2 separate regions of the Homo sapiens genome follow, and region 2 is linked to region 1. Evidence: fine-mapped QTL for protein levels in blood plasma. Region 1 holds a variant in brackets. A gene starts in the other region. All regions are shown on their reverse strands.

Region 1 (16,448 bases):
TTCCCCATGGAAATAGATATGGCACAACAGGACTACGACTAACCCACGTGACAATTAACACTTCTAAATGGGGCTCTTGTCAGAAGGCAGTTCGGTGTCAAAGCCAGGGCTGTTGGTTATGAAAGTCACTACAGAAGCAGTCTTTGACCTATAGTCCAAGGGCAATCTAGGCAGTTTATTTTAGTCAATCCTCAGTTTAGGCTGCGTTCAAGCCCTCAACAACTGAACACATGGCAATAGAACATGCCTTGTCACCCGCTGGTTCACACTCTTCCTAAGACTACTAAACTCAAAAGACTTTCCTAATGAACATAAACTGAGACTTAACTGAATTGGAGTGAATTAGGTTCAAGTGAAACAGAAGTCACCCTTACCTAATGCTATTTTGGGAAGCTGTGAAGAAAGGGCTTTTTCATTTATTTTATGGCATCCTCAACACTTTCCTGATTCCATCTGAGATTTAGAAACTTGAGCTCCCCAAAGCATGCTCAAGAGACTGCCAGTTTAAGCATTTAATCTCCACACTCCAGAGAATCATGACTAGGTTAGAGACTGAAATAAATCTCTAGACCTCTGGGAGTATTTTTCCATGAGCAAGGGCTGCTGTAGTCTTCTAAAAGTGGATGGAGGTCCTGGGTGATGTTAGGAGGGCAGGGAAATCAATTCTCTGGCCTGGCATTGTGGGCAGATGCTGTATCGGCACATAGGCATGGATTTCCTCTCACCTCTCATCATCCAACAACTCATCATCTAATACATGAAGTGACTTGAGCCCTTGGTATCGCCTCACTCTCCATGACTTTTGTCCAACTTACTTAAAGGTAAGCGTGGGGAAAGCCAAAACATTTTTATGTGTTTATAAACTAATATAAAATTCTGATAAGGAACCCACTTGAAATACTGGGTATGGACTAGAAAAGGTGGAATGTTCTTATACATGGAAGGTTAGTTATGGAAGCTGTAGCAGGAGGAGACTCCTTTCTTCTGTGAAATACGGTTGTCAGTTCCTGACATTTGGTTTGGGGGATTATCAATGAATTTTCTTAAACACATTCTATCTTTCTCTATAATATCAGTATAGATGGAAAGTTGGTTTGCTACAATGAAGAACAAAGGCCTTAACTTACTACTGGAGGGTTAATGAGTTAATCAGTTATTATTGACCAAGTCATCACTGGGCATTGAGAATTATAAACTGGGAACCTATTCCGTTCTTCCAATCCTTTCTCCCTTCACATATGTATATCCAACCATATCACTGTCCAAATGAATGAAACTCCCCAGGCCTTACCAGTCTCATTTTCACATGCAAACTGATTTTATCCCCCATGAGATTATCAATATAGACCCTTCCCTCCCCCACCTCATATGACCAAGTTTTGGTTACCTGCAAATCTTGCTTCTAGTTCTTCACTTTTATTTGGGATGATGTAATTATTAGATGGTACAAAAGTGCAGCAGGGACAGTGTAAGCTTATTTTAAATCCCAGGTTCCTGTCTGGAAAACATTAAGTCAAGGAGGTCATTTGTATGTGTGTCTATACCCTTAAATCTGCAATCAATTTAAAGTAACTTAGGGATACTGAACATCTTGGGAGGAAAAGAGAGAGTGGCTTGTAACCTTTATGGTGAAGCCATTCATGAA[C/G]AGCATCAGTTACATCGAAGGAGAGCCATTCGCCTTCTGCTCTTGTTTTCACAACTTTGCTGTCGATGTAGCGCTGGGTTGGAGATGTTAAATCTTTGGACTTGAGAATCTGGAGGGGAAAAAGAGCAAGAGAAAAGGCTGAGTTGGCATTCTGACAGCATGACTAAACCAAAACTATTAACAGTGTTCTAATTCATTACCTAAATTTAGCTCTACTGTAGTATAGCCATGCATTGTCATCTCAATTGCATGGTCACATGCATAAAAACACAACACCAGGCTATTTGCCATGAAAAAATAGCTACTAAATCAGCTGCATGTTATGATAAAGGTGACAGGAACCATAAAGCCAAGTGTCTAAAAGAAAGTGACAGTAATTATTTTACTTTGCTGACATAAGCTTTGCAAGATTTCAGCCATAAATTCTATGCTATTAAGTTAATGGTTTTCTTGTTCTGCTTCCCTACTTATTTAATTTGGGGAGTTGGGGTACAGGAAGGGACAAGAGGAGAAGTCCAGTTCAGAGGACCCAGGCTCACTCTCAAAGGCCCTGAATTATAAATCTCCTTCTAATAAAGAAAGAACGGTCCTAACCTTGGTTTCCAAATCCATTGCCATTAAAATATGTGTCATGCCTCAGCTTTTGAGGTAAGTCCCTAGCTGGGATATTTTACTCTTAATGTGATTTGTTATGATTTATAAAGGTATTCCATCCCCTGCAGACTCAGAATGAATCTCAGCAGAAGTAGTTTGGTATGGTGCATAGATGAATATCTGAAAGCAAACCAGCCTAAACACTGAGGCTTTAGGAAGATGTATTTATCTCAGGCTGGGCGTGGTGGCTCACCGTAATCCCAGCACTTTGGGAGGCTGAGTTGGACGGATCACTTGAAGTCAGGAGTTCAAGACCAGCCTGGCCAACATGGTAAAACCCTGTCTCTACTAAACACAAAAATTAGCCAGGCACAGTGGTGGGCGCCTGTAATCCCAGCTACTCGGGAGGCTGAAGCAGGACAATCACCCGAACCCGGGAGACGGAGGTTGCAGTGAGCCGAGGTGGCATTACTGCACTCCAGCCTGGGTGACAGAGTGGGATTGCCTCTCAAAAACAAAAAAAATAAAGAAAAAGTTAACATTTCAAGAAAGGTGTATTTATCTCAAATGAGTAAAGCGCAACTGTAGTATGTTCCTAGGTTTCGAAAGGAAGTGAATATTTTAGGTGGTTTTAAAAAAATTCTATTTTGAAATGATAGTGGTTTTAGGAACTAAATCATGATTCTAAGTCTACTATAGTAAATCCCTACTGAAACCCTGTATGCTGCCTTTCCTCAGTACTTAGGGGTTCAAGCTGTCATTTTTGTACTACTCTTCCGGATTTTTGTACTACTCTGTTTTGTGGTCATTCCATACCTATGGGCTTGGTCTCTCCAGCAAATTCATAAAACTTCCCAGGTCAGGGATCATGTCTTCAATTTGATATCGTTTCAAACCATAGCACTCAATTGAATCAATATCTATTAAATGTTTATTTCAGTATCTAGAAGATTTATTAACTATCCTTTAAACCTTGTAAAACAAAAATGCATCATCTTTCCACTCATCTGAAAATGTACTTTCCTTCCATGTGTGTACATGATTTGTTTCAGGTAATTTGGCAACAGACGCTTCCTAAAATACTTGCCATAATGGTAGACTTTTTTCTGGATTAAGTAAATATAGAAAAGGAAGGAGATTCATACAATTAGACCCTTGGGTGCCCTCATGAATTTTACACAAGACTTATTCTACAGATCTGCCCCTGTGGTCCAAAACCTCCACTAAAAGAAGAGAATGTGGAGGCAACAATGGCTCTATGATAGGTAAGAAATGTTCTTTGCGAATTAAAGAAAGCAGATAAACATGACTTGAGGGCTGGGTACACTACGCTCTGGGCTTGGCATGCATTATTTTATTTTATTTAATCCTCAAAATGTTCCTGTAGGGTAGATTAAGGAAGCAAACTCAAGGAGGTTAACTAACTTGCCCAATGCCTCCCAGTGAACAAGTGTGAAGAGATGATCCAACTCAATCCCGAGTCATTTTCCCACTTCAGTGCTGGATTTTTAAAGGCCAAACAAGTTATTGAGTCAAGAAAACATTCAATGACAGAGGCAAAGATTTTTAAATAAGATTAAAATAAATGCTGGTACAAGATGAAAATATAAGATAGTGGAACGTATACACAATGAATGTTGGCATAAAGCTACAGCTTTAAAGATACAGCTTAATAGCAGTCCATCTCCTAGGAATCAAACCTTGCCTTGAAAATACTCCCAGTTGGGAAAGTAAGACATCACTTATCTAATTCTGAATAAATGGTATAATTAACCTACTATGGAACAGGAATAAGAAAAACAATGGTTGAGAAGCAGTTTTCAGGCATTCTGATCTGCCTCATTGACTAAAAACTGGTAACATTCACAGAACTCATCGTTTTGTCTCTAAATTCTTCCCCTAGCTAATCTGCAACAGTGCATTTTTACAAAATGCTTTGCATATTTCTGTGCTGCTAATTAGCACAGTGTATTATCTTATTCACATAGCTAACATTTAGACATACTACCTAGAACTAAACATTGTCTCCATTGCTGAATTAATTACTTATGATATACATGTCAAATGTCTATGACATATACATACATATACATGTATATATGTGTGTATATATATGTCCAGTTTCACTAAAGACACAGAATTTTTAAAAATTATGGCCATATCGACCAAATAAGCAGAAAAGACACATAATGCCAAATCTATATAAATCTTCCACCTTATAGAAAAGGAGTACATTTAGATTATCTTACTTGGAAAGAGTCCAAAGAGCAGCAAAGAGACTCTGAAGCTTTTTCTCTTTTAAATCCTACTAGGAGAACTACGATAAGAGCTTCCTCAACCACAGAGCACTGGTAGGCTCAGAAAACAGACAATCTCATCCTCTCACTTGGGTGAAAGGTCCTCTGGATCTTTTTCACTAGCTCCAGACTCATGAACAGGCCACATATAAACCACCCAAGAAATACAGTTAGTTAGCTACATAATTCTCAAACACAGTAGCGACTTTTGTCTGGTGGATTTGTTGTCTTGAACTTCATGGCCAAAGAGTTCTTAACCCACTTGTTGCATGTTAACTCCATTCTTCTTATCCAGTCCTTAGTGGAAACAGGAAACAGCTGCTTTCCATCACTCAGAGAATATCCCTCATATTCTTGGAGACTATGATTAAGTCCCCCTCAGCGTGCTTGCTTGCTTTCTCTAAACTAAATAAACCCAGTTCCTTTAGACCATATTTAAAGGTGTAATTTCCCAAACCTTTAATCATTTGGGTTGCTAACAAGGATGAATGATGCTATATAAAAGTATTCCTCCTACAGCTTCATGATTTTGCTTCAGAACTATCTAGAAAACCTTCTAATCACATCGTAAAGTCTTGAATCTTAACTTGAAAGGTATCTTCTTCCTAAGAATAGGCACAACCTCACTATCCTCTGTTTATCTCCCATTTATCACCCACACTAAATTGAACTGTAAGAGAAGAAGGCATGGAAAATCAACCTGCTGCTTACATTCAAAAGTTTATACAGGAAGTGACCAGATCAGTCAACTTCCCATTCTATTTTAGCCTTTGCTGTCTGTCTTTCTCAGGTCTCCAAACAACAAGAGTATTGAATGTTAGTAGTTGTGGATATGTAGCTGTTAATTGTTTTTCTAGATTCATGAGTCATTTGCTTCTAAATTTCTTTATACTTTTTTTTTTTTTGAGACAGGGTCTCACTCTATCACCCAGGTTGGAGTACAGTGGTGTGATCTTGGCTCACTGCAACCTCCGCCTCCAGGGTTCAAGTGATTCTCTCGCCTCAGACTCCGGAGTAGCTGGGACTACAGGTGTGCGCCACCCATGCCCGGCTAATTTTTTATATTTTTAGTAGAGACGGGGTTTTGCCATGTTGCCCAGGCTGGTCTCGAGCCACCCACCTCAGCCTCCCAAAGTGCTAGGATTACAGGCTTGAGCTACCACGCCCGGCCTCTTTATGTATCTTATCATGACAAAGATAATTTAGTTGAATAGTAGAAGCTCTCTTAACTGGCCTCCCCTTAACTGGCCAGAGTAACCAGCATTCTCCATTAATTCTGTGTTTTATAATATATATTGGCTGATGCCCAAAGCACACTGGGGATCATTGGGGAAAGTTACTCTCCAAGCACTTCCACTCTTACCAGTTGAGTTGTATGCTTAACAAATATCAATTTTATACATTTCTTTTTTTCCCTAGAAAGCATGAAATGATATACATTTCTAAACCTGCTTATGACACTTGGACTTGTTATTGTAATTATGCAAGTTAATTAAATGGTCTAGAAACTGATGAAATGCAGGACCAAAAGTAAAGAGAGCTGTTTCTTCTCCGAAAGCCAGTTGACTGTCTTGGAAAGTCTTCATAAAGACAAGTTCCTATAGGAAAGAAAGTTTTTTGGAAAACAGTTTGCTAGTTCCTCAAAAAGGCAAACATTGAATTACCCCATGATCCAGAAATTCCATTCTTAAGATATATAGCCAAAAGAACTGAAAGCTGGCACTCAAGCAATACTTATACATCAATGTTCATAGCAGCATTACTCACAATAGTCAAAAGGTGGGAAAAAATTCAAGTACTCATCAAGAGATGAATGCATAAACAAAATGTAGTACACTCATCCACTAAGATATTATTCAGCCATAAGAAAGAATAAAATTCAGACACATGCTACATGACATGGATGAACTCTGAGGATTATGCTAAGTGAAATAAGCTGACACAGAAGGACAAATATTGTGATTCCACTTACAAAAGGTACTTTAAATAGGCAAATTCATAGAGATAAAAAGCAGAATAGGCCAGGCACAGTGGCTCACGCCTGTAATCCCAGCTCTTTGGGAGGCCAAGGCAGGTGGATTACCTGAGGTCAGGAGTTTGAGACCAGCCTGGCCAACATGGTGAAACCCCGTCTCTATTAAAAATACAAAAATTAGCTGGGTGTTGTGGCACACACCTGTAATCCCAGCTACTCGGGAGACTGAGGCAGGAAAATTGCTTGAGCCCAGGAGGCGGAGGTTGCAGTGAGCTGAGATCGTGCCACTGCACTCCAGCCTGGCTGACAGAGCAAGACTCTGTCTCAGAAAAAAAAAAAAAAAAAAAAAAAAGATGCTCATGGATAGGGAGAATCAATATCGTGAAAATGGCCATACTGCCCAAGGTAATTTATAGATTCAGTGCCATCCCCATCAAGCTACCAGTGGCTTTCTTCACAGAATTGGAAAAAACTACTTTAAAGTTCATATGGAACCAAAAAAGAGCCCACATTGCCAAGACAAACCTAAGCCAAAAGAACAAAGCTGGAAGCATCATGCTACCTGACTTCAAACTATACTACAAGGCTACAGTAACCAAAAAAGCATGGTGCTGGTACCAAAACAGAGATATAGATCAATGGAACAGAACAGAGCCCTCAGAAATAACACCACACATCTACGACCATCTGATCTTTGACAAACCTGACAAAAACAAGAAATGGAGAAAGGATTCCCTATTTAATAAATGGTGCTGGGAAAACTGGCTAGCCATATGTAGAAAGCTGAAATTGGATCCCTTCCTTACACCTTATACAAAAATTAATTCAAGATGGATTAAAGACTTAAATGTTAGACCTAAAACCATAAAAGCCCTAGAAGAAAACCCAGGCAATACCATTCAGGACATGGGCATGGGCAAGGACTTCATGTCTAAAACACCAAAAGCAATGGCAACAAAAGCCAAAATTGGCAAATGGGATCTAATTAAACTAAAGAGCTTCTGCACAGCAAAAAGAAACTACCATCAAAGTGAACAGGCAACCTACAGAATGGGAGAAAATTTTTGCAATCTACCCATCTGACAAAGGGCTAATATCCAGAATCTACAAAGAACTTAAACAAATTTACAAGAAAAAATCAAACAACCCCATCAAAAAGTAGGCAAAGGATATGAACAGACACTTCTCAAAAGAAGACATTTATGCAGCCAACAGATACATGAAAAAATGCTCATCATCACTGGCCATCAGAGAAATGCAAATCAAAACCACAATGAGATACCATCTCACACCAGTTAGAATGGCAGTCATTAAAAAGTCAGGAAACAACAGGTGCTGGAGAGGATGTGGAGAAATAGGAACACTTTTACACTGTTGGTGGGACTGTAAACTAGTTCAACCATTGTGGAAGACAGTGTGGCAATTCCTCAAGGGTCTAGAAGTAGAAATACCATTTGACCCAGCCATCCCATTACTGGGTATATACCCAAAGGATTATAAATCATGCTGCTATAAAGACACATGCACACGAATGTTTATTGCGGCACTATTCACAATAGCAAAGACTTGGAACCAACCCAAATGCCCATCAATGATAGACTGGATTAAGAAAATGTGGCACATATACACCATGGAATACTACACAGTCAAAAAAAGGATGAGTTCATGTCTTCTGTAGGGACATGGATGAAGCTAGAAACCATCATTCTCAGCAAACTATCGCAAGGACAGAAAACCAAACACCGCATGTTCTCACTCATAGGTGGGAATTGAACAATGAGAACACTTGGACACAGGAAGGGGAACATCACACACTGGGGCTTGTCCTGAGGTGGGGGGAGAGGGGAGGGATAGCATTAGGAGATATACCTAATGTAAATGACAAGTTAATGGGTGCAGCACACCAACATGGCACATGTATACATATGTAACAAACCTGCACATTGTGCACATGTACCCTAGAACTTAAAGTATAATAATAAAATAAATAAATAAGAAGAAAAAAAAGAAGCAGAATAGAGGTTAGAGGTTAGTAGGGGTGTAGAAGGTAATTAGAAGGTATTGTTTAATGGGTACAGAGTTTCTGCTGGCGATAAAAAAAGTTCTAGAAATGGATAGTGGTGATGGCTATACAATATTGTGGTGAATGTACTTAATGCTGCTGACTTGTATACTTAAAGGATGGTTAAACTGTAATGTTTATATTATGTATATTTTATCACAATAATTTTTTTTCTAATTTTAGGTGTGAGAGAGACAGCTACAGAAGAAATAATACGATAAAAAGTTAGAAGAATCCTACACTCAGGTTGCTCAGCAATTGTCCTTAAACATCTCTACTTCAGAAAAATAAAAATAGAAATTGTAGATGATGCACTATAAATGTGATTTATACAAAACAAAATGACATGGATTGGTAATTGGCACATCCATGTCAAAGAAAAGTCCTTGGCCTTTCACAAAAAGAACTCAGCCTCAGCATGTGAATGTGTATGTATACATCCATATGTACATACATATATATTTGTTTTAAGTTTTAAAAATTTAAGGTTTGCATCTCTCTCTTTCTGTTTCTCTCTCCTATGTTTTTCTAATCCCTGGCTTTAACTGATTTTTTAATCTTTAACTGACCAACAACTGTTTCTGATTGAATTAGAAAAGGGGGCTTCTCATGTATTAAAAATAAGATTTAGCTGTCTTTGGCTTAGCTGCCACCCACAGTGATGTTTGAATGCCACCTTCATTACATTACTGATATATAATCATTAGATATAATATGTGTGAAATACCCACATATCGCCTTCAGCAAGGCTCCAAGCTCTTCATTGAATTACACAACTCCCTACACAAAAGCATCCATTCATTTCTCTGCCATTGGAAAGCAGCCAACTGGGCAGTGGATAAAGGTGAAAGTCACTGATGTTACCCAATAGTTTGAGGGGGGAAAAAACAAGTAGAAGTCTAGATGCAAAATTATAGCCAGAAGAAATCTTAACCTTAAAATAAAAATGCTGTAAAACAACTCAGGACTTGGGTTAGACACTAAGGGCAACATCTCTTACACGTCTATGAGACATTGCAAAGAGTTATAAGAAAGCATTGGGAATTCAATGTTACTTTCCAAATTCATACATCAACAGATCCACAGGAGACCATGGGGCTATTCAATCAGACTTCTAATGCAAAGGGAATTTAACTATAGTGCTGTAGAGAAAAATTGACACCAGGTTCATTAGTGTGGGCCCATCTTGTTTTTAAATGCATTTAATGTTTTTAACGCTTTAAATATGTTTAATCATTAAATATCTTTAAGTGTGTTCAGTGTTTAAATGTATTTAAATGTTTTAAATGTTTGCAGTGACTTGCAAGTAGTGATGAACAAATGATGAATCAAACATTCACTCTGCTGGCTGTGAGCACGAGTCTCTCAGATCTGCCTGACCTCAAGTCATTCACTTCAGCATTATGAAATACTGGCATTGGCAAGGCACTTTGAAACCATCTGCTTCAATCCCATACAGTTCATTCTCTAACATCTCTTTGTCTAAAGGCCTCTCATGACCGTGAACTCACTATTTAATGAGAAAGGTCGTCCCCCTTTTGGACAATCCATATTGTTGAGATTCTCCATTATCTTGGACTTAAAATTTCCATCAACTAGTCTTCCTTAATAATAGCGCCATTGCCTCATATTTGTACAACCATTGTAGTTTTTCAAATATTTGAACTTTTTGCCATGTTTTTAGCCCTTCACAGAAATCTTGTGGGATGAACATCATGGCCCTTATTATCTGCATTCTAAAAGAAACAGAAGACCAGGTCGGGCACGGTGGCTCACATCTGTAATCCTAGCACTTTGGGAGGCTGAGGTGGGCAGATTATGAGGTCAGGAGATCAAGACCATCCTGGCTAACACGGTGAAATCCCGTCTCTACTAAAAATACAAAAAATTAGCCGGGCGTGGTGGCTGGCACCTGTAATCCCAGCTACTCGGGAGGCTGAGGCAGGAGAATGGCGTGAACCCAGGAGACGGAGCTTGTGGTGAGCCGAGAACACACCACTGCACTCCAGCCTCCGTGATGGAGCAAGACTCCAACTAAATAAAAAACAAAAACAAACAAACAAACAAACAAAAAACGGAAGCCTGAAGCACTTAGGTGTGTTAACAAAGCCCTTCAGGAAGAGCCTGGACTAATGTCTTTCCCTCTTAATACCAGTGGAGAAGGCTTTCCAATATTGTTTTTCGCCCTCTGGAGCAAGATGTAAAATTCTTTCTTTTCCATGTCAGGCTCTAGTCACAAGAGGTGGCTTCCCTCAACTGATCCCTTTAAGGCAAAAGTTCAAGGTGTGTCACCATCCTTGTTAAAACCCTTTCCAATGTCTTCTTAAAATTAGTTCCTCAACAAACTCCAGATATGGTCTAACAGAATATGGAGATATACAGAACCTGTCAAATGTGAAGAGGGGAGTAGCTATTGCTTCCCTTGTTCTGGTCACTACTTTTAATGCAAACTATTTACTTTTGGCAGCAGCCACAACACATCATTGAGTCACAGAAATTTTTTTGTAAAATAAAACCTTTGTTCTTATTCACAAACTGTTGTTAAGTCAGATTTTTCCACTCCAAATCCTTTCTGGAATGAGGTGGAATAAAGAGAAAGAAATAATGCAAAGCAAGAAGGGAGGAGGGTTGGTCTTTCTAGCCCAGTGGTCTCCAATGTTAGCCTGCTTCAGAAACATCTGGAGTGCTCATTAACACAGATTGCTAAGCCCCATCCCCAGAGCCTCTGATTTAATAGGATGAGGTGGAGGCCCAAGAATCTGCATTTCTAACAAGTTCCCAGGTGATGTAGAAGCTGCTAACCAGGGATTACTCTGAGAACCACTGCTGTAGCCTGTATTTATATAATTCATTTTTCAAACATAAATGCAAATTACACATATATATCTGTTAATGTTGAACTCTATTATCTGACCCAAGTTTTAGCCTTTTGGAATCTCTCTGAATTTTCAGTTTGCTATTCAATGTATAAGCTACTCTTCGGAGCCACAGAGCACTAGCAACAGTGCAGCCAATGTCTTCATCATGTTGGTGATAACAATGTTAAAATCATAAGGCCAAAACCAGAACCTGTTGCTGGCTTCTTAGTTACCTCCTTCCTGGTGGCCATTTCTGAAATCAACACTCTGTGATATGCAGGGTATACAGCAGAAAAAAGTGGAATTTCACTCATTGACTAAGGGTCCTGGCCATCTGGGCCACCTGACAATCAATCCATTCCATTTACTCAGTGGTCCCTTAGAGTTCTTTGAAGAAGCCATAGGGCTGTGCCAAGTGCCTTTGAAAATCATTAGCGTAGCGAAAAGGTGCAGAGGCTTTGGAGTCAGACAAGCCTAAACTATGGCTTACTGGATCTATAATTCTCTCATCAATGAAAAGGAATAGTAAAACGCACCTTGTATGTTTGTCGAGAAAATTAAGTGTCACGGAGTAGGGAGAGCATCAGTCACATTGCCTGGTATTCAATACGTGTGAGTTATTGTTATGATTATGTTCCCTACCTTGTCAAAAACTTTCAGAGGCTTCTAATGCCTAGTGAATAAACTCCAGATTCCTTAGTTCAGTATTGATAACACAACTGGCCACCAACCTATCATCTCACACGCGCCTTTCATCCCTAGAAGCCTAATCTAAACAATATCTCTAAAACATGGATTATATACTCCAAACTTCCAAACTTTGGCTTCTAACTAGCAACCCTATCAGAATGCCTTTCCCTCCTCCAGTTTTCTCCTAAAAAACAAAACAAAACAAGCCTTTCCACTCTTCTAATCCAAACTTGAAGCCCAGTTTTTCAATGACATGCTTACTTTCACTCTAAACTAAAGTCAGGTCCCTTTCCCTAGTTCCCCATGCAATGCTACGGGATTTGCTGAGCATGTGGTCCCTTGCGCATAGTGGCTTCAAGGGTAATCCTGGATGTGTGGAAATGTCCATTTCCTCCAATAGAATATTAAGCCCATACAAGAGAGAGGGAAACATAAACTTATTTAAATCCCCACAAACCCTTATATTTTGGTTTGCTGACACTGGTAGAATACATATTCATTGATTAATTTTGGAGAAATCTGACTCTCTAGGTCAAAACCGTGTTATTAAAGACCAAGATTTTCTCTCAGGCAGACAGGCACAGAGAACACACTCTTGTGAGCATTTCTTGGCTTACCTACAGCAGGAACAAATGATTCTCCAACACATCACTCCCACATCCATACTCTGGAAGGCTTTCATTGGCTTTGGAGGAGCCTTTTACCCTCATTCAAAGTAATAATAATAACTAATAATATTCAAATATTTAATATGATCAGTTAATTTGTTTGTTCAGTCATTCATTCATTGCCGAGCATCTTGTATGCACTTGAGTCCTCATTTATTCATTTGTTTGATTTTATTTTATACCTCACTTCCTCCAGTTTAGTTCAACAAATATTAAGCACTGGCTGTAAGCAAAGCATTGCATTATACGTATACCCCAGGATAATAAGATGGTGCCTGTTCTTAAAGGAGTGCATTGGGTAGTAAGGGAATATAGACATCTCAACAAAAACTTAAAACGATGTGTTCATAGGTTACCAGGAAATGTTACAGGCAGGGCATCTATCCTTGCCAGGTAGATGAGGTCAGGGAAGATTTCCTGTAGAGAGGAGAGTGTAAAAGGATGACTATGAACATCCAAAAAACCAGCACTAAGAGAACACAGTCCAGGTAATAGGGATGTGCTGGTTCATTAGAAGGGAGAACAAGGCCAGGCGTGGTGCCTCACGCCTGTAATCTCAGCACTATGGGACGCTGAGATGGAAGGATCGTTTGAGCCCAGAAGTTTGAGACCAGTCTGAGCAACATAATGAGACCTCACCTCTATGAAAACATTTTTAAAAATTAGCTGGACATGGTGGTGCACATCTGTAGTCCCAGTTACTCAAAAGGCTGGGGCAGGAGGATCTGTTGAGCCTGGGAGGTTGAGGCTGCAGCGAGCCAAGATTGTACCACTGCATTCCAGCCTGGGTGACAGAGCGAGACTCTGTCAAAAACAAAAAAAAAGAAAACAAAAAAACAAAAAAAACAAGAAGAAAGAAAGAAAGAAGGAAGGAAGGAAGGCATCCTCCTCTCTCTTCAGTGCCCTTTTATCTTTTCTAACAATATATACTAGGATTTAGGGAGAGTTGGCTTGATAGGTGTATGGGTAACCTAGAACTGTAGTAACAAAGTACCACAAACTGGGTGACTTATAACACTAACTTATCCTGTCACAAATCTGGGGGCTAGAAGTCTGAAATCACGGTGTTGGCTGGGCCATGATCTCTCTGACGCCTCCAGGGAGGATCCTTCTTTGCCTCTTCTAGCATCTGGTGGTTTGCTGGCAATTTTTGGTGTTCCTTGGCTATAGTTGCATAGCTTCAATTTCTGCCTTCATCTTCACATGGCAGGCTCCCTGTGACTGAGTCTTCACATGGCTGTCTTTTTATAAGGACACCAGTCATACTGGATTAGGGACCCACCCTCCTGCAGGATGACCTCATCTCAACTAATTATATCTGCAATGAGCCTATTTTCAAATCAGATCACATTCCAAAGTACTGGGGATTATGACTTCAACATATCTTTTTTTTATGTGTAGGGGAAGGGACACAATCCCACTTCTAACAGTAGTGATTCATAAATTATACTGTGGGGAGTATAATGCTCAATCTAACTATGAGCTCCTTCAAAGCAAAAAATGTTCTTTCTCTCTCTTATTACCCCCACAGAGTATTTTTCATGGCAGCTTACCCAATCCCTGCTTGGTATATTCTTATTAGTTAACAGACTTCATTAGAAAGACACATTTGATCAAGTGACAAATAAGCCCCTGAACAATCGGTCTTTTATAGTGATAAAAAAAAAAAAAAACTGCTTCTTGGAATTTTAAACACATCCAGAAACCCACCACAGAGATTATATATATCAAGAAGGACAGAAAGAATTATCAGACAGAATAAGCAATTTAATACTGTATTTTACCCTTTCTATTTATTTCATTATAAAAATGAAATGAGGGAGAGAAAGCAAGAAAGAGAATTTCCAAATAATAGCCAGTGGAGCTTTATAGAGAATCAGAACTGGGTACAGTGGCTTTTATTTCAAGGAGGCACAAATGGAGCTCTCTCTTCCTGTCTAACTGTAGCCTCCTTGATTATGCTGGGTCACTTTGGGGGTGCCTACCACACCGACACACTGCATGATTATCCTTCAGAAGTGGCTTAACACACCCAGTACTTACCTTGCTTCTGCCATCACCATGTCCTGTAATTGTCATGGCTCCTTTATAATTGCATCTGTCTAAGAGGTCGTAAGTAATGTATACCTGGCAAGAGCTTCACGAGGGCCTTCAGTCAGCTCCCGTGGAATACATATCAGCCTCAGAAGACTGAGAATACAAGTCTCTTTGGAGCTCAGATAGCTACATTATTACATCACTACGTGAACTCTTTCGCTTTACAGTACAGAGTATTACACATTGATATACACCTGTATTATACATACCCATGTGAAATTATGATACAGTATGGCATACGCAGACCTTTGATGACCTTTATGGAAATGTCACTAGATGTGCCTTCAAGTTACACACATACACACATACACGCACACAACACACATGCACACACACACAGAAAAGTCTCTCCTCTGTGATGAAATACCTTATAATTCCCTATTGTTTCCTTCATTAAAAAAAAAAACTTTACAGATGAACCTTTGTGCTGAATGCACATGTGCATAAACAAGTAAATCCATTTCTCCAGGTTGAAGGGATGAAGGAGTCCTTTGTGTGAACAGAAAGTCTGTCAGATGCTGCAGCTCAGTAGCATTCATGAGACCATCAGGTATAAATCACACAAAAGAGAAAAGGATTCAACTGGACTAAAGCCACATCAGTATAGACCAGGCGAGAGAGGGGTGCAGTACAATACGTAATGGTAGAATTTGAAGGAGAATTAAATCAAGACTGTACTGTCTTTTTCTTAGCTGAATTCCTACAGTCTTTGAGGCTGTACCACACAGCCCAGCAGTATAAATTTTGACAATGACCTACCTATTTCCTGCCATTGAGGGAAAGACTGTCCACAAGACCTCAAGCTCTCTGGAGCCATATCTTCTAATTTTTTATTTGACCTCCCCCTTCCAATTCCACTCTGACTTTAACACTAACACATGTGAACTTGGGGAGTAGACTTCTAACTTGATTCCTACCTCCTGGCACCTATAACATATGTGGCCTGTACTATAATTTAAGTGAGCACTTTAATTTAGGGCATGTGACTATAAACTAACAAGCCCAAATAAATAAATAAAGAGCTTGTTTTTTCTGAAAACATCAAGTTTATGGGGTACCCAAGAATATCAGTTTCATTAATTTATTACATAATTTTATTTTATTTTTTTACCTACATGGTTATTATCTATTAATATTAAATACTTCATCAGAATTAGCTCTGAATAAGTCACAGAAGATGCATAGTTATATACATTTCTTTCTTCATCAATATTTAGATATCTTTAAAACAAATGGAGCAGAATTTCCAAATCCGAATAAATGAGTGATGTTTCTCAACAGAATCCCCTTTATAAGTTACATACTTATTTGAAGGACATTCCTTATAGTTGAATCTTATTTTGACATTTTAGTTAAATTCATTAAAAAACACTTATTGAACACCCACTGTGGACCAGACACATCTCCAGTAGTTTATGGCTAGAGGTAGAGATAAGATTATAAACAACATAAAGATGGAATAGATCAAATATGGCAGATAATGAAGATTATCAAGGAGAAAAGCACAGTAGACATTGGGGCTAGGATGTGTTGGGAAAAGCGACTCTGAGATCTTAGGTACG
Region 2 (16,448 bases), not on the chromosome of region 1:
TGCTGCCAGATGTTACATTCTGAGAAGGAAAAATGGAGGTGGCCAGCAGATTAGGATAAATTCTGTTTCTTGGTTTGACATAAAGTGTCAAAATTTCTTGAGGGTAGCGTAGGGTGAGGGGTAGCTATTGAAGCGCAGAAAGGGCAGAAATGAAGAAAGAACAGACCTCGGCAGTTTGTCCCAGTCCTTTGGGCTGAAGTTTGCATACCACAGGAAAGCACACAGAACAGGGACCCTAAAATCTGAGAGCAACTGTTTTATTAAAGGAATAGATGTAAGTTCTTTAATTCTCAGTATTTTTCATTTACCTCTTTCTTTCAGAAACTCCTAGCCTATCTCAGATGTGGCACTGGGAACCAATGGGCGGACTGGGCCGTGTTTGAATGGGTGTGCTACAGTGGAAGCAGGCATCATGGTGGATCAATCATATAAAAGAGAGAACCCCTTAAGGGAAAGATTGAATAAAGAGATAAACAGAAAGAGGGCCGCCTAGGCCAGCTGTCCTATTTACCTGGAAAGTGTTCTTCCTGAAGAAGCCTTAAGCTTCTATATTTTGTTTAATACAGACAGGTTGTTGCTTGCACTAAGATATTGGGAATGCCCCTGCTTGCTCTCAGCTCCTTTGTATCTCCAGCTCAATCTGAACTGATTCCTTCATTTCCCAAGCTCATTTGCCCTCTGTGTTCAGACTGGGTTTGGGTGAAGGAGGCCTGGCATGAGTCTGGAGGGGGGGAAGGAGAGAGAAGCCAGGGTATGTCCTTCTCTACTCTCCGTGTTTGGGGCTGCATCTCTAGAGTTGGGTACATCTCCTTTGTGGTCCTAGTTCCCCCAGCCAGGGGCCTAGGAGCAGCACCTTTTTTTTTCCTTCCAGCCCTAAGCCTGGTAATAGCTTCGATCCTTGGGTGGTCTCACCACCCCTGGTTGGCTTTTCTGTTCTTCCTTATACTTTATAGCTAGCTTCCCTTAGAAAGTCGCTCTACTGAGCTCCCTGTAGTGGATTTTGTTTTCTGGACTGGACTCTGGCAGATAAAATCATCTTCAAAATATAAAACTCAGAAGTTTAGAAAGCACCTCCATGGCTGGACTCCAAGGCATAGCTGCCTAATATTCAATTCCATTCTAGAAAATAACAATAGTTTATCAATAACACCTTCTATTTATAGGACTCTTTATAGTTTGTAAACTGCTTTTGTACTTATAATCTCATATGAGTCCCAAAGTAACCTTTATAAGATGAGCAGTAGAAGAAACAGAAGTGCCTACACTCATAGTTGGTAGTTGCAGTAGAAGTAGAGAAGATATTTTAATTTAAATCTTCTGCCTCAAAGTCCCAGGGTTAAAATAATAAATTTTTGAATGATTAAATATGAAAAAGCATTTAGTAATAAGAGGAAATGTTCCTAAACTTTATATTAATTATCGTCAAGGCATCTTTTATAGTTTTATCCTTTATTGCATTTCTTATGTTGATTCTTATATGATCATGTGAATATAAATTTGGACAATTATATCACTCTTCAAAAATATAAAACCAGGGCAAACAGTTCTGGAAATTGGACTATAGGAAGAAGAAAGCATAAAAATGAGATGGGCAGATATTAAGCAAAAGAAAGAAATGATAGTATGGGGTGTCAGGGATCTTCTTACAGAACACACACACACACACACATATGGATTAGAAACATACTTGACAATATAGAGTACCTCGGTACAGTTTTGATTTATTGTGACTTATAACAAAGTCTTTCTAGTCTAACTGCATCTTGATGAATATTAACCGAATTGCATAGCCTAATAAACATTCATTTTCTTCCTTTTAAAAATCATTTAGAATTTGGCTTATAATTCTAAGACGTATGCAAGTGGCTGAGTATATACTAATTTCTTAAGCCACCAATCTATCATTTAAAAATTCAGGTAATTACTAAAATGGCATCTATATACCTGGAAGAAAACATCATATTTAATGATTCACAGTTACAAATGTTGCCTCTGCATCCTTGCTGAGCTGCTTTCATTTGAAATACGCATCCCTCCCTTGTCCCCTCTATACCCCCAAGCAGATGTCTTAGGCTTGAATGTGGCCCTGTAATGGAGATGGCATTGTCTGCCTCTGGGCAGGAAAGCTGGCATCCTCTTCTGATCAGTGGTCACTGAATCAATGTTGACATAGCACATTTACTGGAAAATGATGAGAAAGCCCCACTCCAGCTGCTTCTTGGAACATGTTGCTCAAAATAAAATCTTCAGCTGGCCAACTTGAGCTAGGTCAGCAAGACTCATTTTTCCACCGTGAGAGGTGGGAGAGGCACCTGAGCCTCTAGGCCTTGATTGAGTGAGGTCTGTGCATGGGGTCTCGCAAATGTGTGTTGTGAGCAGTACAGCCTCCACAGTACTGTACTGCACACCCTTGTTGCACAGAGTGTGTGCGGAGAAGGGAACACATTTCCCCAACTTCCACTGCCCTCCATGAGGCCCTCTGCTTCCCTGGTCATCCTCATCAGCCTGGTTACCCTAGCAGTCACCCACTCACTCAGGACCTATATATAAGTATGATTGGCAATGGGATGACTATTTGTTTCCATGGTTCTCCAACCAAAAAGGTTATTCTGATAAGTTAGGATGCTGCTCAGACATTATCTAATTAGCACTGTGTCTGCATTGCAGAAAATAACTAACACTCAGCATTTTCACAAGATAATTTGGTCACATCCTGAATATTCAACTGGGTGAGTCAGAGGGAAGAAAAGACACACAAGGAAGTAGGAGCTTGATTTGGGTTAAGCTTGGAGGTACTACGTCCCACCTCTAGCCTCGCTGATGAAGAGAAAATCACAAGTAGGATCCCACAGTATTGGGGTGTTGCAAGAAATACAGAAGAGTTCTTGTCTCTTTGCATTTTTATCTATTTACTAAATCTAGCTGGTTAGCTTTAAAACATTCATGTCAAATTCTTTAAGTTTACAGGAAAATAGTCAAAGATTATTTTACCATGTTATAATTTGAGTCTTTGAGTATCACTCATTAGTATCAGCTGATTTGAAATGCTGCGGCTGCCTCTTGGTTTTCTCAAAAAATCTGTTTTTGGTGTTCCTTAAAAGACAATGTTGTCAGATCTCATAATTCAGCACATGTTTATTGAGAACCTCCTTTGTTAAGAGTGTTAAGTGCTAGATGCTTTCTGTTTGCTTGGTTCTTTTTAAAATAACTGAATTAGGTAGATGCTACTAATTTAAATAGACGTTGCTTGAAAGAAAAACAAATGAAGAGAGCAAGAGATTATCTGAAATATAATTGAATTTGTAAATACTTACTGGTGCTGCCCAGGTCACACTGAAAAGGAGTAGTCCCACACAGAAAACTCGCATCTTTGAGAATCTCTGTAAAAAGACAACAATATCTTACCACAAAGCATTGCCAGTTATAAACTGCAGCCATAAGAAGAGATAAAACACATAGGAATATATAAACACCCTTCCCCTTGGCAGTTCATATCCTTTTGTGTATGTGTGTGTATAGACTATGTATAACTTGCTTATACCCGAGTGTGGACATTTTAAGAACTTTCATATGTCTAGTTATTCCAATGTGAAAATGAAAATTATTCAATATCATTAAAACAGTAAAGTCAGTTGATAGAAATATATTTTATAGACACATTTATTTGCTCTATCATCAGCTCTTCTTCCTCTTGTCTTTAGAAAGAGATTGTTTAATTATTTGTGTAATTCAAAATGACATTAAGTTGATGTAGCAGCTCATAACACACTCTAAGTTTGTCAGGGTAGCAGATTGCACTGTGAGGAAAGCTTATCTGCCTCCGGGCTGGTGCCCTAATCTGTGTCTCATGTTCATTAGCAATGTGTCTGAATTAGTAGCCATCCATGGGCTGGAGAGTGAACTAATTTTTGCAACACTGACATTAATGGCTAACATTTATTGAATACTAAAATGAGCCAAGCACTGGGTCTAAGAATTTTGCATGCATTCAATTATTTGAGCCTCACAACAACCCTACAAGTTAGGCGGCGTTACTATGCCTGTTGTATAGATTAGGAAATAGACACAAAAAGATCAAATAACTTGCTTTAGAATTCACAAATATTAAGGGGCAGAACTGGGATTAGTATCCAGGCAATGTGGCTCTAGACCCAGTTTTCTTCATCAAGACTCTCTGCCACCTTAAATAACTTTCTATTCTTTTATCTTATTACAGAAAAATCCATGTACAGTTGACTTAAAGGCAAATCATATTTTATATTGGGCTCAACAAAATGATGTTCAAAATACTAACATTTAGTTACAAATAAAGGTATTTGTTTATATTTTGGTAAATATACCAACAGGAACTAGTGAGCTCACTTAAGTAGCCATTAGATTGGAAAAAAGTCAACATGTCTTTGGACTATTGATCTTATTATTATATTGTGAAAACAATAAATTTATGCCACTCTGAGATTTCTTGAAGAAAAACTTGTTTTTATGGGAAAAAATAATCTAAATATTCTTGCAATCTTTAAACACCTCAAGGAAAAGCTGGTATTTGGAGAAATGATTGTAACTATTAAATATATTCTAAAATCCTAGGCTATGTTTTTCTAAATTAATGCAATTAGAAGGATCTAAATTCTAACTATAGTTTACCCTTCCAAGCATTTTATAGATCAGGACAACGTAAGTAACTTATGAAATGAGTTAATGCTCATCAGTAGAAATATCAACACAGATGAGGTTTCAAAGTATGAATAAGATCAGATTTTCCTGATTGCAGTTTGTTAAGTGAAGGGATAGAAGAAAACTGAAGTCTGAGTTACTGTGGATCTTGATAATGCTAATAACAAAAAAAAAGAGAAAGTTGCTATCAAATCATCAATTTTAGTTGATGATTTCTAGAGCATGGTAACGCATTTCCTATTTTATAAAACAAAGCACCAAATATTACACAGTTTTGCTCAGTAGAGAAGATTTTCAAAAGTAATAAAACCATACTTGGGTGGCAAGCATCTTAAAAACGTAAACAACTATGATATAAAGCTATTTGCTGTCAAGAACATGAAAGCCAAATTACCTGGTATCTTTCACCTTCAGAATACCTGGCTTCTTGTTGCAGGATTAGAAGTCTCTGGGCATTTTGCTGAAATTTAAAGTTTGTTAGAGTTCCCAATGGCCAATCAGCACTGGCTCACTCAGCGCTAGCAAACAATTTGTTACAAGCGCCCACAGATAACCATAGGGGGTGAAGTAATTTTAATCTAAAAATGTGTTTGTGGTAGAAAGCTACTATCAAATGTTCCAGAAAGTGGGATAAACAGAAAATATAAATACCTCAGTTTGGACATCATGTTGTCAGATAATCAAAATTGATTTCAGAACTGCTAATTAGGACTGACTGAATACCTAACAAGTTTAGAAATGGAAAACATTTTTGCTATCCTTTTATGTAGAAAGTTTATGATGTCAATTTTATCTAAGTGAAATTCAGCAACATTTAACAAAAATGTTTTAGGTGCCTACTGTGTGACAGGCATTGGCGAAACTGCAGTGAACAAAACAAGACAGAAAAAAATCCCTGTCTTCCTGGAGCTTAGAATCCAATAAGGGAGACAGATAATAAACAAGATAAATGAGTTAAATAGATTAGATAGTGACATATACTAAGTCTAAGGAGAAAAAGTATTGTTGGGGAGTAACAAGCATTGGGGGTGGGGACACTGGGTTGAAATTTTAGATAGGAAGTCCTGGGAAGGCCTCAATGAGAAGGCAACTTTTGAGTAAAGACCTTGTTATGGTTTCAATGTACGTGTCCCTCCAAAATTCCCATGTTAGAACTTAAACCCAAGGTGACAGTATTGAGAGATGGGCTCTTTAGAAGGTGATTAAGTCATGAAGGCAGACCCCAGTATGAATGGGATTAATGACCTTATAAAAGGGCAAGAAGAAACTAGCTAGTCCCTTTTTGCCCTTCTGCTTGTCTGCAGTGTGAAGACACAGCATTTGTCCCCTCTGGAGATGCAGTAGCAAGGTGCCAAATTGGAAGAAGAGATAGACAGCCCTCGTCAGGCAATGAACATGCTGGCCTCTTCATTGCGGAATTCCCAGCCTCCAGAACTGTGTGAAATAAATTTCTGTTTTTTATAAATTACCCAGTCTGTGGTATTCTGTAGTAGCAGCATGAACAGACTCAGATAAGCCTGCAGCCATATGACTGTCTATGGGAAGACCATTCCAGGAAGAAGAAATAAGAAAAATAGTGCCCCAGAAATAAAAGCCTTGTGACTTGTTCCAGGAACAGAGAAGAGGCCACTTTGGTTGGAGGCCTGAGCAAGGGGAATAGCAACAAATGAGGTCAGAAGGGTATTAGATGGCAGATGGTATAGGACCTGTAGGTCATTGCAATGCTTTTGACATTGCTATGAGTGAGAAGAAAAGTCCTTGGAGGTTTTAAGCACAGGCATGATTGAGGAGTGACTGAAGTAGGAAAAAGGCAGAGAGAATGGCTAGGAAGCTCTTGTAATAATCCCAGCCAGAGATGATGGAGGCTTGAACCTGAGTGCGGCAGAAGGGATGATGAGACGTGGTCATATTCTGAAGAAGTTTGGGGAAAAATGGTAATAGGATTTGCTGAGGTACCAGATGTGGCCTGTGAGAAAACAATCAAGAATCAGGATGACACCAAGGTTTTGACCTGAGCAACTGGAAGAGTAAAGTTGATTTTTTCTTCATATTGGAAAAAATGCAGAAGAAAATGGTTTTGAGGAAAATATTGTGAGTTTGGATTTAGACAAATTTTATAAGATGGACAATTTAAGACACTCAATTTCTTAATGAAACAAGTAACAAACCTATACTAGAATAAGCCTTTCCAGTGCGATTGCCTGCTCTCTTGTTTTGCCCAAACTGGCTACCAAAATAATTGTAATAGTTTGAGAGGTTCCACTTAATATAAAAATATTATAATACCTGTAAAGGTCATTGACATTATGACTATATATTAAAGCATCAATAAGAAATTATGTAAGAGTTATTTAACCTATACTTTGTGATAAGAACTACCTACAGTGAAACACACCTTTAACAGTTGTATATTATATATACAAATGATATATAATAAGATTTAAGTGTAAACTGTCAATTTATCTCAACCCTCCAAATAGACAAAAACCAAAACATAAAACACAAACAAAACAGTATTTCATAAGTTCTACCTGAGAAAATGGTGCCTTTTCTAGGTCAAGCTAACTCTCTCTTTTTTTTTTTTTATCATATCTAAATTCTGCTGTTCCTCTTTTGAGTATCCAGAGCTGCTTTTCCTCCTCTCCCTCACCTCATGTCTTCTTGTTAAAAAAATTTTTATTTAGGTTTGGAGGTACATGTGAAGGTTCATTACATAGATAAACACATGTCCCTGGGGTTTGTTGTACATATTACTACATCACCCAGGTATTAAGCTCAGTACCCAATAGTTATCTTTTCTGTTCCTCTCCTTCTTCCCACCCTTCACCCTCAAGTAGACCCCAATGTCTGTTGTTTCCTTCTTTGTGTTCATAAGTTCTTATCATTTAGCTCCCACTTATAAGTGAGAACATGTGGTATTTGGTTTTCTGTTCCTGCGTTAGTTTGCTGAAGATAATGGCCTCCAGCTCCAGCCATGTTCCCACAAAGGACATGATCTCTTTCATTTTTATAGCTGCATAATATTCCATGGTGTATACATACCACATTTTCTTTATCCAGTCTGTCACTGATAGGCATTTAAGTTGATTCCATGTCTTTCCCATTGTGAACAGGGCTGCAATGAACAGCCGTGTGCATGTGTCTTTATGGAAGAATGTGTTATATTCCTCCGGGTATATACCCAGTAATGGGATTACTGGATCAAACAGTAGTTCTGCTTTTACAGAACTGCTTTTAAGAACATCTTCCAGGACTAGGTTTGAGCTATTGGGTGGGGCCACTGTTGACTTACAACCATTCAAGCATAGATTTTAGAATATTTGAATATTGTCATTGACAGTGGAAATATTGAACTCTAGAACTCTAGTAGCTTTGGAGGCAAACAGACTTGAGTTCAAATCCTGACTCTACCACCTGTTTACTGTGGCAAGTTGATTAAACAACTAATTTGAACTTTTCTGTGCCTCAGTTTCTCCAACTGAAAATAAGGAGCACAGTATCCATGACCAGAATTTCAGCAAAGTCCAAAAAAAAAAAAAAAAAGGATTTGGGTGATATAGAAAGGAGCTAACAAGGGAATGGAAGTCAAGGAAGGAAAGAAGGCAACAAAGAGTGTTCAGCCAACTCTGAGACTGAATGGAAATATAGAGCTTTCTAAATGGAAGACAAGTGAAATCCACAAAAAATGCTCATTTTCAACTTTGGATATGCTATTGAAGCAATAAATAATTCAGGAATTTCTATAATAATGTGTATATAATGCAGTGTTTTAAGCTGTTACACTGTTTCATAACATTAACTTTATATTTTGAATGATCCAGTTATAGAGCAAACACTTGATATGTGCCTTAGGAAATGTTCATTTTTTTATTGCTATAATTTTATAAATAATTTCAGATATTCCTCAAATGCATTTTTCTTAGTTTCAAATAAATTTCAGTGTGCATGAAAAAGATTTCCCTTTCATTTGAGTGATGGAAAATTAATTATGATCTAGAAAAACCTGTGTTCTAGGATAAGAAAATTTATAGAGTTTTAAGAGAAAAAAACTGGCTTAGCTACTAGTCCTACCAAGGGGTGAACTGGCAGTAGCTAAATATACTGCTCTCAAAGCTAAAATGAATTCAAAGCTACATAAAAAAATTCAACTTGAGTTTTAAATTTAGAACCTACAATTGACAAAAGCAAAAAAAAATGAGAGCCTATTCTGGCTAGAAGGTTGCAGAGAAGAAATTCTGGGGAAAAAAAATTAGGAGAATGATCCTTTGCCTAAGTTCCATGCAGTAGAGATTTTTACTTCTACCCTCTTAAAACTTGCCCTCTGTGTTGAAATTGAACTTCAAAAACTCAATATAAGTTTCCTAAAGGTTATTGTATAATAGAGAGTTTTGCCATGGCATTTCTAAGGAACCAATAACTGAAGTTAAAACCAGGAGTCTGTAAAAAAAATATGTATCTTCACACCATCTCTATTTAACTGGAAAACAAAACAAAACAAAGAAAAATGGGAAACAACTGAGAAGGGAAAGAAATGGACACTTGAACTTTTTTCTGGTTCCTCGTTCCTGGTTCAAAAATGGACACCTCCACCAATGATGCACCTAGCCTGACTTTGCTGGGTCAGACTGACACACAGAGTTGCTCCTCAAAGAGAATCTGGAAGGAAGTACTCCATGGAACATGCTTCATCCTGTCGTGGGTTTTTCATTTCTTATCGATCACTTGAGTGTGAACAATCATATAAAATGCTAGCTAACTAGGAACCTATACTATCAGTTCCAGCTATTAGACTCTCACCCAGGAATAAGGCTTTTTTGTTTGTTTGTTTTATTTTCTCATCTATTTCTAGGACCCATCTTTTCTGTACTTGTGCTCTGGGATTAATTGCTTTGGTATACATTTTTTTTTAAACTTAGTATTCTAGGAAGTCCTTTTTCCCCTGCTATCATGGTCCCCAATTTATTCTTGACTCTATTAAGGTAACACATTTCTCTGTCATCATTTTAGACAGACTCACACAATACACTTTTCCATATGTTCTAACTAAAATAAGTTTCTGTTTTACATATACAATATACTTTTCTGTATGTTCTAACTTGCCAAAATAACTCTCTATCTTCTAATTTACATACATTACAAATATACAGTATTTCCCCTCCTGGATCAGTGGGGAAGTCTTTGAAGTGTTGTGAATAGAACAGAGGGGTCCATGTTGAGTAATCTCTTCTTTACCATACAGATGCTTAGATTGGTCAAGGCTTTAGGCATTTCATAGAAGTATTTACTTCCCACTGATATCCAAAATAAGAGTCCAGAATGAGTGTGCTGGGAGTCTTGCCCTGTTTTTAGCAGAAGGAATGTTTTCATTTTAAACGTGTTCATTCATGAGTATCAATAATCATCCTAAGCTCAAAAAGGTCACCTTTTCTAAAGCATCACTTACAACCAACTTTCTCCTTTACCCTCAAATTAATTTTATTTTTAGTTATTATTTTTTCTGTCAGCATTTGGGAATTTCAACAGAAGCCATAAAAATTTCAGCCAGATGCAGAATCATGGAGGGTCACAGCAGAGCATGAAGTTAGCTGTGTTCATTCCTCTGGGCTTTTTGTTTACCCATTCCTCTATTACAAGCAAAGAGAAGACATGTCAATATAATTTGCTTTTATTTTTATATTAGAGAGATGTCTTACTCCACCTTAAAATGTAACTCAGAGGATGTAGTTAAAATATAATTATAATGATGCTAGCCCTTTCCTTCAGGACATGGTGACATTGCTGGAAGTGGCTGCAAAACTTTGTTGTGTGACCTCAAGAGGAAAATATCTCTTACCCTCATAATAGTCTTTTTCAGAGGTTGCTGTTTTGTTTTTCAAGACCAAGAATCTTCTTCTCAGGATACAGAACTTGAGGACTTTTACCAGCTAGCTATTCATTGTATCGAACATGTATTAATATTTTCTTACCAAATTAGGGTGTATATCGTCTTAGCTTATTTTTAATTCCATGTTTATCTGCATTGTGTTATCATTTTATTTTATCTCTTTTTTCATGAATTCCTTAATTCTCACCAACCCAGATTTTCTCTATGCTTGTCAGTTCCTGTTCCAGTTATCTGTTGCTATAAACATACCACCTTAAAACTTTTCGTAGTTTGAAATACAAATTCACTGTTTTCTCTCAAGGTTCTGTGTGTTGACTTGGCTCAGCTGCATGATTCTCACTTGTGATTTCTCAAATGGCACAGTCAGAGATGGGGTGCAAGAGTCATCCCAAAACTTGACTGAGCTGCACATCCGATATGCCACAGTGCTTCTCCACATGATCACTCTGTCCTGCAGAATAGGCTGGACTTCCTATATGGTAGCTCAGGATTTAAAATGCTCAGTCAGAAATGGGATCTAATTAAACTAAAGAGCTTCTGCACAGCAAAAGAATCTATCATCCGAGTGAATAGACAACCCACAGAATGGGAAAAAATGTTTGCAATCTATCCATCTGACAAAGGTCTAATATCCAGAGTCTATAAGAAACTTAAACAAATTTACAAGAAAAAAACAAAAACCAACAGCCCCATTAAAAAGTGGGGAAAGAACATAATTAGACACTTTAGAAAAGAAGACATACATGTGGCCAGCAAATACGTGAAAAAAAGCTCAACATCCCCACTGATCATTACAGAAATGCAAATCAAAACCACAATGAGATACCATCTCACACGTCACAATTACTATTATTAAAAAGTCAAAAAAACAACAGATGTTGGTGAGGCTGCAGATAAAAAGGAATGCTTTTACACTGTTGGTGGGAGTATAAATTAGTTAACCATTGTGGAAGACAGTGTGGCAATTCCTCAAAGACCTAGAGGCAGAAATACCACTTGACCCAGCAATCCCATTACTGGGTATATATCCAAAGGAATGTAGCAGATCACGAGGTCAAGAGATCGAGACCATCCTGGCCAACATGTTGAAACCCCATCTCTAGCAAAAAAAAACAAAAACAAAAAACAAAAACAAAAAAAAAAACTGTTGTGGTGGTGTGCACCTGCAGTCCTAGCTACTTGGGAGGCTAAGGCAGGAGAATCCCTTGAACCCGGGAGGCAGAGGTTGTAGTGAGTGGAAATCATGGCACTGCACCCCTGCCTGATGACAGCGTAAGACTCTGTCTCAAAAAAAAAAAAAGAATATAAAGAATATAAAGCATTCTATTATAAAGAAACATGCACATGTATGTTTATTGCAGCACTATTCACAATAGCAAAGACATGAATGTGCATCAATGATATACTGGATAAAGAAAATGATATAAATGCCCATCAATGATATACTGGATAAAGAAAATGTGGCATGTGTACACCATGGAATACTATGCAGCCATAAAAAAGAATGAGATCATGTCCTCTGCAGGGACATCGATGGAGCCAGAAGCCATTATCCCCAGCAAACCAATGCAGGAACAGAAAACCAAATACTGCACGTTCTCACTTATAAGTGGGAGTTGAATAATGAGAACACATGGACACAGGGAGGGGAAAAACACACACTGGGGCCTGTTGGAGGTGGGGTATCAGGAATAATAGCTAATGCATGCTGGGCTTGATACCTAGGCGATAGGAGGTACTGTGCAGTAAATCACCATGACACACATTTACCTGCGTTAACAAACCCGCACATCCTGCGCATGTACAGACCTTAAAAGTTGAAGAAAAAAAGATAGTCGGTTAAAAATTAATTAACTGGATTTGTTGGTCTAAGAATAAAAGTTTCCATGCAAATTGAAAGCAGAGATTGACAGGCTAGTTTTATGGCCTAAGCCTGGGACTGTTGCACAGTTACTCTCCACTTGTTCGTCAAAACTGTCAGATTGAAGCGGGTGCAGAAATAGGCCTCACACCTTGATGGAGAAGTGGCAGCCTCACATTGCAGAATAGCTTGAGGAATGGGAGATAACGTTTCAGTCATTTTTGGAGAATACAGTGTGCCTAAGACATACCCCGGGTGTAATTCAGGTATTGGGCATTCACTGACAGTTATTCTCAGAATGTTTGGTGTACTGGATTTGATCATGGCCCATTTTATGTAGCAGGAGTAATGGTTGTGCTGTTGATTTTACAGAACTAACCTACAGCTAGAACCAAGATCAAGCTTCCCCTCAGCTGGCTAAGAGGTGAGACATACCTGATCATTCTTGTTACAGAATTTTGAAAGACAGTATAGTGAAAAAGTTACCTTTAAATATTATTTATCAAAGATAATACTTCTTGCTGTGCCTAGGTCCTGGAACTGTCAGAAACATCTCATCAAATAGCTGCAGAGGGTGGATTGCTTGAGCCAGAGATGGAGACTAGCCTCAGCAGCATGGCAAAACCTTGTCTACTAGAAAATACAAAAATTACCCTGGTGTGGTGGTGCACACCTGTAGTCCCAGCTCTTGGGGCCGCTGAGGCAGGAGGATCACCTGAGCCTGGGAGGTCGAGCCTGCAGTGAGCTGTGATTGCACCACTGCACTCCAGCCTGGGTGACAGAGCAAGACCCTGTCTCAAAAAATAAAACTAATACATAAATATGTAGCTGCAGAAAGGAGAAAATCCTCAGGTTGCTCTATCAAACATCAGAAATGTTCCTGAGTTTTTAAACAAAGTTTGAAGCAAAGGACAAAGCTTCAAATTGAAAACAAACAAACAAAAAAAACACAAAGAAAAGAGAAAAAGATACAATTTATCTCTTAAGTGATTAATGACAACAACATTTTCAAAATGATCATAGTTTATACAATCATCTAAAAGGGGATCAGTGAACTATGGCCTGTGGGCCAAATCTGACTCATCACCTGTTTTGGCAGATAAAGTTTTATTGGAACACAGTCATGTTCATTTGTTTACGAATTGTCTATGGCTGCTTTCACTACAGTGTCAGAGTTGAGTAATTGTGACAGAAACCATATAGCCTGCAAAGCAATCCACCCTCTGCAGCTATTTGATGTTTCTGACAGTTCCAGGACCTAGGCACAGCAAGAAGTATTATCTTTGATAAATAATATTTAAAGGTAACTTTTTCACTATACTGTCTTTCAGAATTCTGTAACAAGAATGATCAGGTATGTCTCACCACTTAGCCAGCTGAGGGGAAGCTTGATCTTGGTTCTAGCTGTAGGTTAGTTCTGTAAAATCGACAGCACAAATTCTGCAAAGCCAAGAATACTTTCTATCTGGTCTTTTAAAAAAGAAGTTTGCTGACTTTTGCTTTTTAGTGAAAGCTTGCTGACCCCTTATTAAAATAGTGAGGGCAGAATTTATATTTTAAAAAGAGATAAGATGAATTCTGTACATATTAATGGTGGTCTTATCTTCCTGGACCCTGGGAACCATGAGATACAAGGGAGAAGCCTCCTGAGAAAGACCAGGATGTAACAGAATGTAATTTGCATGAGAACCTTTATTCTTCAACCAACAAATCAAGTTAATGAGTTTCTAACCCACTAAGTATTTTAAAGAGCTAGGGCAGAAAATATTTGCTACACTGTACATGGATAAACAAAATGTCCAAGTCATTGCTTCATGGTTTACTTTCAATTGATGTTGATTCTTTTTTTTAACCCGAGATTCATGTTTCTTTACTTTAGATTTTCCTTTTCAAAAGAAAAGGAAAAAAGTGTGTATGCTTTTCTGCCTTTCTCACACTTCCACTATTTGTTCTCCTCATCATTCAAAGAGATCCACTTTGCCTGGAGAAGGATTGGAGTTTTTGACAGAAAGGATCCAAATGAAAAGAAAGTCAACATTTGTTTTCTTACTGCTGAAATAGACTCTTGAAGCCCGCATCAGAAACAATCATTTTGAAAGCTAAAGCTTTAGTTTTGCAAAAGTATTGTTTGTTTTACCTTTTTGGTTAAAGAAAGCGTGGTAGAAAATCAACATGGCCAACTATGAAGGATGCAGGGCATAGAATTTATGTCACAATAATAAACTGAAAAGGAGAGGGATATTTAGTGAGCCTCACAGATTAAAGATGGGTCCCCTCTGCTATCCTGTCTGCTACCAGCTGCAGAGGATATTGATTGAGTCATCGTGTTGAAGGAGGTAAGAAGGACTTGAAATGAGAGGACAAAATACAGGGTGATCCTGGGAAAAGGGCAGAGTCATCTTTGAGAAGCAGTTACACTGTGGCCACGCTGATACCTACAGACCATCCACCCACACAGTGGGTGAGCAGCCATTGAGCACACCACTGCCTGGCGAGGTCCTGCATGTCTACCATGAATTATCTTGTAAGAGTCACCCTCTTTGATGCGTCAAAAGCTTTTTTTAGCCAGTCCACACTCCTATGTGGCCAGCCTCCTTCTGAAACGTCCAGGACACTCAATGCTTCCCAAACTTTGAGATCTGGAAGAGGTATTCAGGGGAGCTGCTCTGCTGCAACTTCCTGACAACCTTGCACAACTCCATACCAACCATGTCTTTATGGATTACATATGGGACCAGAATTGACTGCAGTACAACCTGAGTCTTGGCAAAGTACCCTGCAATTCCTCCTGCAGCAGGAAAGGATAAGCAAGCTGGTGAAGAGATGCCATGGGCAGTTCCCACCCACCTCCCTACCTTGTGGAAGATGACCACAAGGCCATTTCTCATTCGTCTCTTTAGTTTCAGTTGAGCACAGGACTTTTGACCTTGCTCCCTTAGGGTTCAACTGCAGACTTCTTTGTGAGTATACCTATTTGGCTAAGGGGTAGAGCTGACTCCTCAGTAGCAGAACGACCTACCACCTGTGCCATCTGTCATCTGGCCTCTCTGTTCAGTGTCATTCTATGGAATTAGAGATGCAGGGAGCTGACACCATACAGGTGATGCTTATGTTTTTTGTGTATGTAATAAAATGTCTGACTGTATTTGACTTCATGGTCCCCCTACTGGCTGAATCTGTGGAAGTGTGGTGTGTGAACCTAGCAGCTGCATTCAGGAGCTTCGTAACCCAGTTACCAACCACACTGCTGCCCGGGGACCACTTAATTGCTTGACGGGTTGTGAGTGGGAAAGTCCTGGGAGTCTGCACTTGGGTAGAAGTGGAGATTACAAAACCCACCCCAATTATCCAAGTTACTCAAAACTAGATGGGTTATCCTGGAAAGCATGATGAGTCAGGTGATTGGGCTTCCCACTAGCTTAAAAATATGAAATAATACGCCAATCAAAAGACTCTGAGACTAAGCACTGAGTGTTGAGTGGAAGTTCTACTGCCAAGAAGGAAATCCATTTCAACCAAGAGAGGATAGACTTTGGGAGGTAAGACTTGGCGGGAAAGTCGGGTGAGACATTTTTTTTTAAAGCCAAGACTCACAGTCTTTGTCCTACATTGGAGAAAGACAGTGCTGGGTGTTGGTTTGGCAGGCACTGTGTGGGCTAGTTGGTTAGGCATCAGGTAAGGGCTGTGTTGGCCATTTGTGGTTGCTTTCGTAAGTGGTCTTGTGCTGCATATATGAGGTGTGCACGCTGGGATTATGGTGCCCAGCTGCTGTCTGTGTGAATGAGGGCTCCCCTGCAGCTTTATGGTGCTCAGGGGTCTTTAACTTCTCTTCTTGGGCCATCCTTACGGGACTATGAAATCTGGTTGCCCCTGCTTCTATTTGTATGGAGCACCCTTGCAGGCTTACGGGGCCTCAGGGTCCCTTTCACTAGGAGCCAGATGGTACTGTCATCACGAGGCTAGGTGGCCACATTAGGATAAATAACAAGTATCATTCAGGATTTTCTTTTCATTTCCACAAAGCAGCAA

Direction of the effects. Alleles are on the strand shown, and positions count from the first base shown. The strength of an association depends on the size of the effect and on how common the allele is.
With allele C in place of G in region 1, the plasma level of the protein whose gene starts at base 5,114 in region 2 is lower (weak association).

The links. A credible set is the group of variants that fine-mapping cannot tell apart. PIP is the posterior inclusion probability: the model's chance that the variant is causal. The UK Biobank Pharma Proteomics Project read protein levels with antibody pairs (Olink). The fine-mapping took linkage between variants from a reference panel, not from the people measured, so its PIPs are less certain.
Region 2: MEPE starts here. The variant in region 1 is the best candidate, but not a certain one, in a credible set for the plasma level of the MEPE protein (UK Biobank, PIP 0.90).

The regions. Positions count from the first base shown.
Region 1 is chr1:218,419,388-218,435,835 of GRCh38, reverse strand. TGFB2 (transforming growth factor beta 2) reads right to left here. Exons shown (of 7, transcript NM_003238.6): 3 at 1,622-1,754; 4 at 1,388-1,498. Among named protein-coding and RNA genes, the nearest start is that of TGFB2-OT1, 15 kb to the left of the region's middle. The variant C/G (reference allele first, on the strand shown) is at 1,646.
Region 2 is chr4:87,821,635-87,838,082 of GRCh38, reverse strand. MEPE (matrix extracellular phosphoglycoprotein) reads right to left here and starts at 5,114. Exons shown (of 4, transcript NM_020203.6): 1 at 5,069-5,114; 2 at 3,315-3,380. The coding sequence starts at 3,368.